Linked DNA regions of Homo sapiens. Each later gene encodes a partner of the first gene's protein in a complex. Links are inferred from orthologs where the notes say so. Each region holds a gene or a part of one and is shown on either strand. Other genes may lie near its edges.

Region 1 (7,264 bases):
TGCCTCTTGTTCCCTTCCCCACAGCTCCCACCTCCATGCCCTTCATATGCCCACCCCAGCCGACCTCTGTTTGCCCCTACAGGTGAACACCATCCCAGCATCCTTCCACGACGGGCTCCTGCTCTATATCCAGGCAGTGACGGAGACTCTGGCACATGGGGGAACTGTTACTGATGGGGAGAACATCACTCAGCGGATGTGGAACCGAAGCTTTCAAGGTCAGGGCCTGGAGGTGGCTGGAATGGGCTGCCTTGGGGGATGAATCCCAGGTGCCCAGTGTCAAGCCATGAGAAGCCTATTGTCCTGCAGCAGTTACCTATGCACACCAGCCTTTTCCTCCACAGCTTTTTTCAGGCCCATCCCTCAGAAGTCCTACAAAGTGTCCAATCTCAATCATCCCTGCTGGGCACTGAGTTCTTTTACCTTTCTTTTTCTTTTTTCTTTTTTTTTTGAGATGGAGTCTCGCTCTGTCCCCAAGACTGGAGTGTGGTGGTGCAATCTCGGCTCACTTCAACCTCCGCCTCCCAGGTTCAAGCAATTCTCCTGCCTCAGCCTCCTGAGTAGCTGGGATTACAGGTGCCCTCCACCAACACTTGGCTAATTTTTTGTATTTTTTTTAGTAGAGACAGGGTTTCACCACGTTGGTCAGGCTGGTCTTGAACTCCTGACGTCAGGTGATCTGCCCGCCTCAGCCTCCCAAAGTGCTGGGATTACAAGCATGAGCCACAGTGCCCGGCCGTTTTACCATTTACTATCATTCTGTATACATGTATGTTTGGAAGGCAAGGCAAAAAAGATTAGAGGATGAAGAGATGAAGTGGGGCACCCCTGAACTTCTATTCTCTCAAACATAGTCATCTTCCCCCATGTCCTCAGGTGTGACAGGATACCTGAAAATTGATAGCAGTGGCGATCGGGAAACAGACTTCTCCCTCTGGGATATGGATCCCGAGAATGGTGCCTTCAGGGTAAGTTTGTGCACCCAGAAGACAGTGCCAATTCCAAATGACATCTCACCCTCCTACTTCCCCCCCACAGCCCTGCCAGGGCACCTGTTTATCCTGTAGCCATTCCACCATGCCTGGACACTTACAAGAGCCCTGGATAAAACAGACCCAGCTCCAGTCTGGGGAAGCCACCAGAATGATAGGGACTCACAGGCATCACACTTGGGGAGCCCCATGCCTGAGGAGGGAGCACAAGCCTGCCCTCGGGGAGCTCCGAAGGGAGGCAGGCAGGACCGCCTCCCAGCAGAGACAGGGCTGTGAAAGATGCACATTACACAGCTCTGCAAGCGAGCAGGGACAGGAAGGCGCTGAGGCCAATGGCCACAAGGGACAGGTCATCCAGAGAAGGCCTCCTGGAAGACGGGCACATGGACTGGGCCTGCGAATGTAGGCTAAGGTGAACATTACCTTCTCCTGTTTTCTACCAAGAAAATAAGTAGAGAAAAATCAATGCTTGGTTGGTACTTCAACCAAGATTATAAACTCCCTGAGTGTAGAGATCGGGTTCTAAATGGAGTTTTCTTTATAAACCCCTTGATAGTTTTCAGGTGTTTCCACTTGAGTACTATGTGTGTGGTATGAGGTCCTGTGTCCAGTTGCAGTGGGGACTTGGTAAGCAGGTGACAACCCAGATATATATGTAGGCTCTAGAAGCAGAGCTGGGGTAGGTGGGAGGTGAGACTGCTGCACTCACAGCATGCCTTCCCCGCAGGCCCTGGCCTAGCCACCACTCCTGCTCTCCCTTAGGTTGTACTGAACTACAATGGGACTTCCCAAGAGCTGGTGGCTGTGTCGGGGCGCAAACTGAACTGGCCCCTGGGGTACCCTCCTCCTGACATCCCCAAATGTGGCTTTGACAACGAAGACCCAGCATGCAACCAAGGTGACTGCCCCTTGCCTTCCAGGCCTCCATCCCAGAGATGCTGCATCCTTCCCCTAAGCACAGTCGAGTAGGTGCTCCTGTCCCATGCTGAGGGCTTTCTGGAGAATGACTCCTGCCTTTTTCTTCCCTTCATCCATCATCCCAGTTCACTGATGGACTATTAGAAAGTTCTTCCTCCTGCTGTCTAACCCAAATCTCTCTTGCTGCAATATGGACTCTCTCCTGCAGATCACCTTTCCACCCTGGAGGTGCTGGCTTTGGTGGGCAGCCTCTCCTTGCTCGGCATTCTGATTGTCTCCTTCTTCATATACAGGTGAGCTGTGATGTGGGGGGTTGAGTGAGGCTGGGGGACCCGGAGAACCAATAGCAGAGGAGGCGGTGGGGACCCAGAGGGAAGAGGGCAGGGGTGAAGGGGCACCAGGGGAAAACCAAGGGAGATGAGGAAGAAAGGAGGCTTAAAAGCCAGAGGAGAAAGAAAGAGAAGGGAATGGCAGGGCGAGGGGAGGAGACAAGGATAGGAATGGCCAAGGAGAGTCAGAAAGATCCAAGAAGCAGAGAAGTTGATGGGTGACATCATAGGGGCGTGGACTGGTTTTCCTTGCTACTCTTGCAGGCCAGATAGGAAGCAACTTTCTGAACCTTTGCAATCATGCCCATGTTAGCTGAGGAGGGTGAGCCCTGGTGTGTGCCAGGTGCCCAACCTAGAATGGAGAAGGGAGCTGAATGAGCCTTGTTCCTGCCGTCCAGTGGAGGCTAAAATGAAGTACAGGAGGAGTTAATGATATACAAAAGCAAGGAGGGAGGGGAGAAAAATCACTGCTGGTTGAGCATATAATGTGTGCCAGGCACTTCCACGTACACTATTTCTTTCTTTCTTTTTTTTTTTTTTTTTTTTTTTTGAGACGGAGTCTCGCTCTGTTGCCAGACTGGAGTGCAGTGGCATGATCTAGGCTCACTGCAACCTCCGCCTCCCAGTTTCAAGCAATTCTCCTGCCTCAGCCTCCCATGTAGCTGGGACTACAGGCACATGCCACCACGCTCAGCTAATTTTTGTATTTTTAGTAGAGACAGGGTTTCACCATGTTGGCCAGGATGGTCTCGATCTCTTGACCTCATGATCCACCCACCTTGGCCTCCCAAAGTGCTGGGATTACAGGCATGAGCCACTGTGCCTGGCCTCATGTTCACTATTTCTTTTCATTCTTATAATAGTTAAGAATGAAATAGATATTGCGGCCTCATTCCCAAGTAAGGACATTGAGGTGATTCCCCCAAGGTCCCCAGTAAGGCAGAATTTCCCCCAGCCATCCTGATTCTCAGTCCAGAGGATAGAATTCCCCCTCCATCTCTGAGTGCATGGTGTGGTCCCACGGCTCTGAGGAGGGGCTGCTGAGCACCCTGCCCTGGGTCAGCGGCTCAGCCACAGGCTCAGATGCAGCCTTCGTATCCCAGGAAGATGCAGCTGGAGAAGGAACTGGCCTCGGAGCTGTGGCGGGTGCGCTGGGAGGACGTTGAGCCCAGTAGCCTTGAGAGGCACCTGCGGAGTGCAGGCAGCCGGCTGACCCTGAGCGGGGTAAGAACGCTGGTGTTTGTGTTGGGGGGCAATAAAGGAGAGGTGGGTACAAGGGGCAGTGCCTGAGGGATAGGTAAGGGAGCAGGATTCTAGTCCCAGCTCTGCTTTCACTTGCTGTGTGACCTTGAGCGACTCATAGTCCCTCTCCGAGACTGTCTCAGATGATGATTACAGCAGCAGAGCCTCCCTCACAGGGCTCTTTTAAAGGTCAGAGGAGATAGTACCTGTGAAAACACTTTAAAAAAAAAAAAAGTAAATGAGGAGGAAATTTTATGATGTGGAACATAAAGCAGGGTGGGCCAGGCACAGTGGCTCACATCTGCAATCCCAGCACTTTGGGAGACCGAGGCAGGAGGATTGCTTGTGCCTGGGAGTTCAAGACCAGCCTGGGCAACAGAGCAAGACATCGTCTCTACAAAGAATACAAAGATTAGCAGGGCATGGTGGCGCATACCTGTAGTCCCAGCTACTCTGGAGGCTGAGGTGAAAGGATCATCTGAGCCCAGGAGTCTGAGGCGGCAGTGACCTAGGATAGCACCACTGCACTCCAGCCTGGATGACACAATGATACTACATCTCAAAAAAAAACCCAACAACAAAAAGGAAGGGTGACACAAAGATAAGGCAGGATAAGGCAGGGAAATAAAGACCAGAGCACAAGCAATCAGGATGCAGACTGGGCCCACCGGCTGACCATTCCTCCTGCTCTCCCTCCTTTCAGAGAGGCTCCAATTACGGCTCCCTGCTAACCACAGAGGGCCAGTTCCAAGTCTTTGCCAAGACAGCATATTATAAGGTGGGCCTGGGGAAAGATCACTGGGCCTTGGGACTGGGGCAGGAGTGTACTCTGATGGAGGACTGGTGGGGGGTTCTGAGGGAAGGAGTAAGCTGGTGGGGAGCAGCAGATGGGGGCCCTGGGGGTGGGCTATTGGGAACAAGTGAGGGTCCTGAGGGCAGGGATGGGCTGTCGGGAGCAGCTGGAATTCCCAGGACATGGGACCATGCTCTTCACAGTGACAGTCTCCATTCCATGCCCAGGGCAACCTCGTGGCTGTGAAACGTGTGAACCGTAAACGCATTGAGCTGACACGAAAAGTCCTGTTTGAACTGAAGCATGTAATGTGGGGAGTGAGGCAGTGGCATGGAGAAGGGGCCCTCGGGGACGCAAGGGAGACTGGCCAACAGAACTAGTTATGGAGGGACCTCAGGGTACCCCAAGAAAGGGGCAGGGACTGGAGCCCTGGGATGGACCTTCATCTTGTGGGTGGGAGTGGGGGTATCCTAAGCTAGGAGAAGAGACCACTGGAGATAACCTGGAGGAATCTTGAGGGGCCATATGTGATGTCCCTGGGGGAGAGAGGGCTTAGGATGCAGAGGGAGTAGGAGCAGATTCTGGGGAGGGTGGGCTAAAGGACATGGGTGGGAATCACCAGGGAAGATCTTAGTGATGGTTGCAGAAAGTGAATAAGGAGTTAAGAAGAGTGAGGGTCCCTGAAGCTAGTGAGCAGCTTGGTGAGGAGCGAGGTCTCTGTCAAGCTCCTGATGCTGGTCCCACTTGCAGATGCGGGATGTGCAGAATGAACACCTGACCAGGTTTGTGGGAGCCTGCACCGACCCCCCCAATATCTGCATCCTCACAGAGTACTGTCCCCGTGGGAGCCTGCAGGTGAGGGGGACAAGGGGTGTCAAGAAACCTGGGTTCTAGCCCTGGCTCTGCCCCTGACTGGCCATAAGACCCCAGGCATGCCTCGCCCTCTTTCTGACCTTTCTGGCCCCATCTGTAAAAATGGGAGTTGGGGAAGGGCAGTGGCACTAGAGTCAATCCAAAGTTTTGTCCTGTTCTACCAGTTCACATCAGTAGGACCCTGCACCCTCCTCCAACTCCCAGGGGGATCTGCAGGGGATTGGTCTGACTCTTATTGCCCCAGCAGGACATTCTGGAGAATGAGAGCATCACCCTGGACTGGATGTTCCGGTACTCACTCACCAATGACATCGTCAAGGTATGCCCCTAAGCACCTATTGGATGTGTAGAGCAGGGGCCAGGCATGCTTCTCCTGGCCACGGGTGTAGGTCCCACTCCTGGCCAATACCTCTGCCCACTCACATTTCCAGGGCATGCTGTTTCTACACAATGGGGCTATCTGTTCCCATGGGAACCTCAAGTCATCCAACTGCGTGGTAGATGGGCGCTTTGTGCTCAAGATCACCGACTATGGGCTGGAGAGCTTCAGGGACCTGGACCCAGAGCAAGGACACACCGTTTATGCCAGTGAGCCTTGACTCTTGAACCTAACACCTGCCCCCAGCACCACCCAGTAGGGAGACTGATGCAAGGCCTCTGATGGGCTTGGGCATGCTTGTCCTGACTCCAGCCTCAATTCATTCACCCATGAAAAAGGGAAGGCCAGACGAAGTGGTTTCTAAGGCCTCCTCTAGCTCTAACACTCTGTGATGCATCCAGATCAGTTTCGGCCACACCCTTGTTTCCCCCTCACCCCTTAGCTTTGGGCTCCCTCACTCGGTGACTACCGACCTCTGACCCACAGAAAAGCTGTGGACGGCCCCTGAGCTCCTGCGAATGGCTTCACCCCCTGTGCGGGGCTCCCAGGCTGGTGACGTATACAGCTTTGGGATCATCCTTCAGGAGATTGCCCTGAGGAGTGGGGTCTTCCACGTGGAAGGTTTGGACCTGAGCCCCAAAGGTGAGAGGAGCACACCTTCCTTAAACCCAGCCACAGTCTCAACGAACCCCAGCCCCAGGGAGAGGGTCCCCTGGCAGCACCACCACACCTTCCTTCTGTAATGGGGTTCAGTCACCACCCTTTGACCCATTGCTGCCAGTGACCAGTCCCCCGCCCCCATGCCTTGGTCTTGGACTTCCCCTGCCATCTCAGCTGGTTGCCCCAGTCTCTCACTAGGCCCTTGGCCAGCCCCACCCCTCAGCTCCTCTACCCCCCCAATACAGAGATCATCGAGCGGGTGACTCGGGGTGAGCAGCCCCCCTTCCGGCCCTCCCTGGCCCTGCAGAGTCACCTGGAGGAGTTGGGGCTGCTCATGCAGCGGTGCTGGGCTGAGGACCCACAGGAGAGGCCACCATTCCAGCAGATCCGCCTGACGTTGCGCAAATTTAACAGGTCCCTGGTGTTTGTCATGGATCCCCCAGGCCCTTCCTCCACAGCCACCATTTACCTAATGCTTCTGGCTCTGGCTTATCCCAGCAGTGGCAGAGGGAGACCACTCACCTCCTCCCTGTACATAGTCAGCTCCAGCTCAGCACAGCCTCATGACCCTCTTCGCAAGTACAGCATGACTCAGCTGTCCCCACAGTCCCCTGCCATTCATGCCCCTTCCCTCCACCATCGACACCCCACACCCTTCCTGCCCACTCGCCTTGCTGGCCTCTAGACTTCTCAGCAGTGTGTAGGATAGATGGGCCTCCCGCCTCCTGCCCTGTAGGCTCTTGGCCCTCCACGGGAGCTCCTGCCCCACCCCTTGATTTCCCTTCCCCAGCGTGCCCACCAGGCCCAGTTCCTCCAGACACACCCTTCTGTGGACATCACTTTGTCCGCAATTGACCCTTGTCATTCTCCACCTCCTTTACCTCCTTCTAACTCACTGGGTTCAACAAAGATGAACAAAATGTCCATATGTCTGAAGCTTCATACTTGACCTTGGGGTCTCAGAAAAGAATTGAACTTTCTTCCTTCTGTTTTCCCCTGCTCCCCGGTATCCTGCTATGCCCTCAACCCTGAGCGTCTCTAGAGACCTCACTGCAGTCTGGAGGGGGAAGTGCCTAGG
Region 2 (7,780 bases), about 140 Mb from region 1:
GGGCTCAAGCGATCCTCCCACGTCAGCCTCCCAAGTAGCTGGGATTACAGGAGTATGCTGCCATGTCTGGCTAATTAAAATAATTTTTTTTTTCTGTAGAGATGGAGAGTCTCACTATGTTTGCAAGGCTGATTTTGAACTCACGGCCTCAAGCAATCCTCCTACCTTAGCCTCCCAAAGTGCTGGGATTACAGGTGTGAGCCACTGCACCTGGCCAGGAGTTGGCATTTAAAGACCCAGCTCACGCCTGGTGCAGCAGCTTACACTTGTAATCCCAGCACTTTGGGAGGCTGAGGTGGGAGGATAAATTGAGTTCAGATGTTCGAGACCGGCCTGGGCAACAAAGAGAGACCTCGTCTCTACTAAAAATAAAAGAAAAAAAATTAGCCGGGTATGGTGGTGAACATCTGTAGTCCAGCTACTCGGGAGGCTGAAATGGGAGGATCACTGAGCCGGGAAGTCAAGGCTGAAATTACCACTTCACTCCAGCCTGGGTGACAGAGCAAGACTCTGTTTCAAAAATAAAATAAAATAAAATAAAATAAAACAAACACCCAGCTCCCTTGAGTCATAGGTGGCATGTGTCTCTGTTCTCCAAACAGAGAACCTGTTTGGAGTTCTCTGTGGGAGGAGGATTAAGCACCTACTGCCAGAGGTGGTCACTGACTTCTACTTTTTCTGTATCACTTCCCCACTCTCCACTGACATTTCCTGGGTTTGTCTCCAAGATCAGCCACTAATACTGGAATATCTGTCTCCGGTTCAAGAGAACTTAAACTAAGACACTCCCAAATAAGTCAACCTTCCTGCAGAGCCCTGCCCTTCATGATTCTCCTGCCTCAGCCTCCCGAGTAGCTGGGACTACAGGTGCACACCACCATGCCTGGCTAATTTTTGTATTTTTAGTAGAGACGGGGTTTCACCATGTTGGTCAGGCTGGTCTCGAGCTCCTGACCTCAAGTGATCCACCCACCTCAGCCTCCCAAAGTGCTGGGATTACAGGCATGAGCCACTGCACTCAGCCAATGTCACCTTACATTTGCTTTCCTTCCTTCTCTATTTGTGTGGGCAGTGCTTTCAGAAGGCCCCCAGAGATCCCCAACCTCCTGGTCTTCATACCCTCTGTAACCCCCTCCCTTAGAGTGTGAGTGAGACCCAGAGACTCACTTCTAAGGGACACAGAACAGTACAACATGAAGAATGGGATGTCACTTCTGAGATTAGGTAACAAAGAGACTGTGGCTTCTTCCGTAACTTCTCTTTCTCGCCTGACCTAATAGAAGACAGTTGCGTCTCCATGGAGAGACCCACGTGGCAAGAAACTGATGTTTCCACCAGCCACCAGCCAGCGAGAACCTGTGGCTTCTGCCAACAGCTGCAGGAGTGAGCCTGAAAGCCTATCCTCCCCCAGCCAAGCCTTGAGATGACTGCAGCCGCAGCCAACGCCTTCATTGCCCAGGGGCCCCAGGCCAAGCAGGGCCAGATCCCTGATCCACAGAGCACAGAGGTGATGAGATAATAGATGTGCATTGTGTGAAGTTGCTAAGGTTTGGGGTGACTTGGTTTTTGTTTTGTTTTTTGTTTGTTTATTTATTAAAAACAGGGTTCCTTATGTTGCTCAGTCTTGTCTGGAACTCCTGAGCTCAAGAGATCTTCCTGCCTCAGCCTCCCAAAGGGCTAGTATTACAGGCGTGAGCCACCATGCCTGGCTTTTGTTCTTTTTGAGACAGGTTCTCACTCTGTCACCCAGGCTGGAGTGCAGTGGCTTGGTCATGGCTCACGGCAGCCTCAACTTCTTGGGCTGTGGTGATTCTCCCACCTCAGTGTCCAGGGTAGCTGGGATGACAGGCACGCACCACTGCACCCAGCTAATTTTTTGTATTTTTAGTACAAATGGGTTTTTGCCATGTTGCCCAGGGTGGTCTTGAACTCCTGGGTTCAAATGATCCTCCCAAAGTGTTGGAATGACAGGCGTGAGTCACCACGCCCAGTCTGGGGTGACTTGTTACCCGGCAGTAGTTAACTAAAACAGCCTCTCACTCCGCCTCACTCTTGCTTCCTTTGAATAGGAACCCCCACAAAACTTTAGCGAGTGACCTTTTGCCTTGGGCTTTGTTTTCTAGGGAAACTGTCCCCAGTCTTCAGCCCTTAGTGACCTCCATATTAAACCAAAGAAACAAAACATCATTTTCAAAGTCAGCAACGATCATCCCTAAGTATGAACCAATTTTTCCCAACTGGGGCTTCTGCTTTAGACCATCTGGGTCCCGCAGAATCATGCCACGAATGTGTTGGGGATTTCGTGCCAGCTCTGCACGCGGGTGACACTGCACACTCTGGGGCTCCCTGCAGCAGCCCAAGGCATACCCCCAGAGAATCGTGAAGCCAAACTCTGGGCTGGAATCTGGCAACACCCGGATTCTGGATTCTCCCACCCGTTTGCAGTGCTCCACCCGTTGTATGACTAAGATGACTTCTTTCCAGTGATAAGGAAATAAAAGGCTTTTGATTTTTCAGCCGTGGAAGAGGTGGGGATGGAGGTGGGCCTGGCTTTCTGTGCCTGTTACTTTTCTTCTCTCTCACTCCTACAGGCTGCTTCTAACCACCCCATGAAATATTAGATCCCCACCTACAGACAAACCCCAAGGCTTGCCAAAGAGGGTCCCTTTTATCTTATCTTAGAATAATATCACCCTGGATACCTCTTGTGACCTCTAGTCACTTGCTGCCCTGATTTCCAACCTTATGGCTGCACAACGTCCTGTTCACCTGGTCAGTCATGAGGTCAGCACACCTGGGGACAGATCTGGCCAGCCAGGACAGAGCTGGTCACTCAACACACATTTTCTGAGCTTCTAAGGAGTGGATTAAAACACATTCGGTGTAGAAATAGATCAGGAGAGCAGCCAACACACACAGACTTGGTAAGTGCACAAAAAAGCTACAGCCCCAGGGGCATGGGGAAGGTGAAGGAGCTCCCTTGGGGCATCTGAAAGATGGGGAATGGGGGTTTAATTGGGGAATGCAGCTAAGAGGTAAGGTGGCAGCTCTCTACGTGAAATAGGCTAGGATACAGACATCAGCGTCAGACCTGGGGATCCAGTCCTGGTTCCGCCACTTAGGCACCTAGTGGCCTTGGGCAAGTGGCATAGCCTCTCGGGCTCAGTTCTGTTCCCTTGTAAGCAAGGACAATGCTATCTACCACCTGGGGATGGTGATCAAAATAAAATCATTTCCATAAAGTTCTCAGCACAGTGCTAGGCATGCTACAAGCAACCAATAAAGACAACTATGATGGCCATCTTGCAGGGACTCAGCACTGCACACTTGTTATGTGTTGACACGTTCTCAGCTCACTTGGGCTCCACAACAATCCTGCAAGGTAGGCAGGGAAGATTTCTACTTTATTCATTCATTTATTTATTTATTTTTTGAGACCGAGTCCCACTCTGTTGCCCAGGCTAGAGTGCAGTGGTGCGATCTTGGTTCACTACAACCTCCGCCTCCCAAGGTCAAGCAATTCTTTTACCTCAGCCTCCCTAGTAGCGGGGATTACAGGCACATGCCACCACACCCAGCTAATTTTTATATTTTTAGTAGAGACAGAGTTTTGCCATGTTGGTAGGGCTGGTCTCAAACTCCTGGCCTCAGGTGATCCACCCACCTTAGCCTCCCAAAGTGCTGGGATTATACGTGTGAGCCACTGCACCCGGCCGGTTTTTAACATTCTTTCTCATTTTACACACAAGGAAAGTAAGGCTGCGAAGAGGTATGCAACTGGTTTGTTTTGGGCTACAGTACTGGTCTCTCAGCCCTTCAAATTTAGAGTTTTCCCCCAGTATACGTTGCATTGAATGGTAATGGCTAACACTGAGTTCAGTGCTTAGCAAACAGGCCATTCATTAAACATAGACAGACTTGCTGCCTGTTATTTCCCTTTTGGGGGCCAGGGAAATTGTGACCTTGGTGGCTCGGTCACTTGCCACTTGCCACGTCCTCAGGGAAGGATGTAGAAGGCATTGAGGGAAACTGACTATACCTCCTTCACCCCCACCTCCCTTCCTCCATCGGTCAAGTTGCCACGGGCACAAGCCCAGGAAGGGCAGGGGGATGTTAACAAACTTCAGACACGAAGAGTCTGAGCATCTATAAACAGCAACGGAAGAAATGAAATTGGCTGCGTCCTCTAAGCCTGTCCCCGCAGCATGCTGGAGGAGGGTCGCGGGGGACATGGAAGAGGAGGAGCTTTGGAGAGAGGATGCTTGTGCTCCCCCGCCTTTTCTTGCTATTTCTATTTGGGGGTTGGATTCCTGGGAGCTTCATCACATTTGGTTCTCAGCTGACTTTATATACTAAAAAATAACTTCCTTTCGCCTGACCATGGAGAGGGACTGCCAGGGGTGAAGGCAGCCCTGTCTGAGGCCAGAGGTCTGCCCACGTGGCGGATGAGGCAGGTGTGAGGCCAGCTTGAGCATCTGGATCCATTTGTCTCGGGCTGCTGGCTGCCTGCCATTTCCTCCTCTCCACCCTTATTTGGAGGCCCTGACAGCTGAGCCACAAACAAACCAGGGGAGCTGGGCACCAGCCAAGCGTCACCCTCTGTTTCCCCGCACGGGTACCAGCGTCGAGGAGAAAGAATCCTGAGGCACGGCGGTGAGATAACCAAGGACTCTTTTTTACTCTTCTCACACCTTTGAAGTGGGAGCCTCTTGAGTCAAATCAGTAAGAATGCGGCTCTTGCAGCTGAGGGTCTGGGGGGCTGTTGGGGCTGCCCAAGGCAGAGAGGGGCTGTGACAAGCCCTGCGGGATGATAACTTTAAAAGGGCATCTCCTGCTGGCTTCTCACTTGGCAGCTTTATCACTGCAAGTGACAGAATGGGGAGGGTTCTGTCTCTCCTGCGTGCTTGGAGAGCTGGGGGGCTATAAAAAGAGGCGGCACTGGGCAGCTGGGAGACAGGGACAGACGTAGGCCAAGAGAGGGGAACCAGAGAGGAACCAGAGGGGAGAGACAGAGCAGCAAGCAGTGGATTGCTCCTTGACGACGCCAGCATGAGCTCCTTCTCCACCACCACCGTGAGCTTCCTCCTTTTACTGGCATTCCAGCTCCTAGGTCAGACCAGAGCTAATCCCATGTACAATGCCGTGTCCAACGCAGACCTGATGGATTTCAAGGTAGGGCCAGGAAAGCGGGTGCAGTCTGGGGCCAGGGGGCTTTCTGATGCTGTGCTCACTCCTCTTGATTTCCTCCAAGTCAGTGAGGTTTATCCCTTTCCCTGTATTTTCCTTTTCTAAAGAATTTGCTGGACCATTTGGAAGAAAAGATGCCTTTAGAAGATGAGGTCGTGCCCCCACAAGTGCTCAGTGAGCCGAATGAAGAAGCGGGGGCTGCTCTCAGCCCCCTCCCTGAGGTGCCTCCCTGGACCGGGGAAGTCAGCCCAGCCCAGAGAGATGGAGGTGCCCTCGGGCGGGGCCCCTGGGACTCCTCTGATCGATCTGCCCTCCTAAAAAGCAAGCTGAGGGCGCTGCTCACTGCCCCTCGGAGCCTGCGGAGATCCAGCTGCTTCGGGGGCAGGATGGACAGGATTGGAGCCCAGAGCGGACTGGGCTGTAACAGCTTCCGGGTAAGAGGAACTGGGGATGGAAATGGGATGGGATGGACACTACTGGGAGACACCTTCAGCAGGAAAGGGACCAATGCAGAAGCTCATTCCCTCTCAAGTTTCTGCCCCAACACCCAGAGTGCCCCATGGGTGTCAGGACATGCCATCTATTGTCCTTAGCTAGTCTGCTGAGAAAATGCTTAAAAAAAAAAGGGGGGGGGGCTGGGCACAGTGGCTCACGCCTGTAATCCCAGCACTTTGGGAGGCCGAGGCAGGCGGATCATGAGGTCAAGAGATCAAGACTATCCTGGCCAACATGGTGAAACCCCAGCTCTACTAAAAATACAAAAATTAGCTGGGTGTGGTGGCGGGCACCTGTACTCTCAGCTACTTGGGAGGCTGAGGCAGGAGAATCACTTGAACCCAGGAGGCAGAGGTTGCAGTGAGCAGAGATCACGCCACTGCAGTCCAGCCTAGGTGATAGAGCGAGACTGTCTCAAAAAAAAAAAAAAAAGGCCAGGCACGGTGGCTCACGCCTGTAATCCCAGCGCTTTGGGAGGCCAAGGCGGGTGGATCACGAGGTCAGGAGATGGAGACCATCCTGGCTAACACGGTGAAACCCCGTCTCTACTAAAAATACAAAAAATTAGCCAGGCGTGGTGGCAGGCGCCTGTAAGTCCTAGCTACTCCGGAGGCTGAGGCAGGAGAATGGCGTGAACCCGGGAGGCGGAGCTTGCAGTGAGCAGAGATGGCACCACTGCACTCCAGCCTGGGCGACAGAGCAAGACTCCGTCTCAAAAAAAAAAAAAAAAAAAGCAACTGCCACTAGCACTGGGAAATTAAAATATTCATAGAGCCAAGTTATCTTTGCATGGCTGATTAGCAGTTCATATTCCTCCCCAGAATTGCAAGATCCTGAAGGGCTTAAGTGAAATTTACTCTGATGAGTAACTTGCTTATCAATTCATGAAGCTCAGAGGGTCATCAGGCTGGGGTGGGGGCCGGTGGGAAGCAGGTGGTCAGTAATCAAGTTCAGAGGATGGGCACACTCATACATGAAGCTGACTTTTCCAGGACAGCCAGGTCACCAAGCCAGATATGTCTGTGTTCTCTTTGCAGTACTGAAGATAACAGCCAGGGAGGACAAGCAGGGCTGGGCCTAGGGACAGACTGCAAGAGGCTCCTGTCCCCTGGGGTCTCTGCTGCATTTGTGTCATCTTGTTGCCATGGAGTTGTGATCATCCCATCTAAGCTGCAGCTTCCTGTCAACACTTCTCACATCTTATGCTAACTGTAGATAAAGTGGTTTGATGGTGACTTCCTCGCCTCTCCCACCCCATGCATTAAATTTTAAGGTAGAACCTCACCTGTTACTGAAAGTGGTTTGAAAGTGAATAAACTTCAGCACCATGGACAGAAGACAAATGCCTGCGTTGGTGTGCTTTCTTTCTTCTTGGGAAGAGAATTCAGGCCGATATTCCTTGTCGTTTTACTCTTTGTCAGAGGAAAGAATGCTGAGTTTTTCTTCTTCCTTTCATTTCACCCTCCTTTTTTGGTAGGTGGTTGGGGAGGCCTCAAATTCCACTCCTAGTGGGGTTTTTGTTGTTTTTAGGGGGGAACATTCAGAAAATGAGAGTATTAATTAGATTTTCTCTGGTACATTTCGAGAGAGTTAGGTTCTACAGCTAAGGTAATGGTACTTTTAGTTTTGAAAAGAGTAGGCAGAGTGTTGAATTTAAAAGCTGAGCAGGCCGGGTGTGGTGGCTCACTCCTGTAATCCCAGCATTTTGGGAGGCCAAGGTGGGCAAATCACTTGAGCCCAGGAGTTCAAGACCAGCCTGAGCAATAGAGTGAGACCCCATCTCTACAAAAAATTTAAAAATTAGCCAGGCATGATGATGTGCACCTGTAGTTCCAGCTATTCAGGAGGCCGAAGTGGGAGGATGGCTTGAGCCTGGGAGGTGGAGGCTGCAGTGAGCTGGTATTGTGCCACTGCATTCCAGCCTGGGTGACAGAATGAGACTTGTCTCAAAAAAATAAAAACTGAGCAAAGTGAAGAAAGGTTTGCCATGCAGACAAACTACAAGTTCATGTGCCTTTTGTGTACTAACAAGTATTTGGAAAACAGACATAGTCTTTGCCTAATCCGGGTCTGAAGGGCCTGGGCTTGTATTTTACTA

Evidence for each region.
Region 2: the proteins of NPR1 (region 1) and NPPA are in contact, whole or in part, in a crystal structure (PDB 7BRG), measured with the Rattus norvegicus proteins. The link is inferred for Homo sapiens from one-to-one orthologs. Residues at the interface, in NP_036745.1 of Rattus norvegicus: Asp90, Val115, Tyr116, Ala119, Pro120, Arg123, Ala139, Leu140, Gly141, Ile142, Val144, Tyr148, Tyr182, Asp184, Leu186, Gly187, Asp188, Asp189, Arg190, Phe193, Phe194, Val196, Glu197, Tyr200, Met201, Arg204, His213, Gln214, Glu215, Phe216; in NP_036744.1 of Rattus norvegicus: Arg126, Ser127, Ser128, Cys129, Phe130, Gly131, Gly132, Arg133, Ile134, Asp135, Arg136, Ile137, Gly138, Ala139, Gln140, Ser141, Gly142, Leu143, Gly144, Cys145, Asn146, Ser147, Phe148, Arg149, Tyr150.

Annotation. Positions count from the first base shown.
Region 1 is NC_000001.11:153,681,622-153,688,885, forward strand, and holds part of NPR1 (atrial natriuretic peptide receptor 1 precursor), read left to right. Parts: intron 1-82; coding exon 83-218; intron 219-876; coding exon 877-968; intron 969-1,754; coding exon 1,755-1,890; intron 1,891-2,118; coding exon 2,119-2,203; intron 2,204-3,342; coding exon 3,343-3,463; intron 3,464-4,184; coding exon 4,185-4,259; intron 4,260-4,501; coding exon 4,502-4,579; intron 4,580-5,024; coding exon 5,025-5,129; intron 5,130-5,394; coding exon 5,395-5,466; intron 5,467-5,578; coding exon 5,579-5,735; intron 5,736-5,968; coding exon of another isoform or gene 5,969-5,991; exon of another isoform or gene 5,992-6,012; coding exon 6,013-6,168; intron 6,169-6,431; coding exon 6,432-6,600; intron 6,601-7,264. UniProt on the Homo sapiens protein: Receptor for the atrial natriuretic peptide NPPA/ANP and the brain natriuretic peptide NPPB/BNP which are potent vasoactive hormones playing a key role in cardiovascular homeostasis.
Region 2 is NC_000001.11:11,844,954-11,852,733, reverse strand, and holds NPPA (natriuretic peptides A preproprotein), read left to right. Parts: upstream 1-4,950; 5' UTR 4,951-5,049; coding exon 5,050-5,172; exon of another isoform or gene 5,173-5,294; coding exon 5,295-5,621; intron 5,622-6,719; coding exon 6,720-6,725; 3' UTR 6,726-7,025; downstream 7,026-7,780.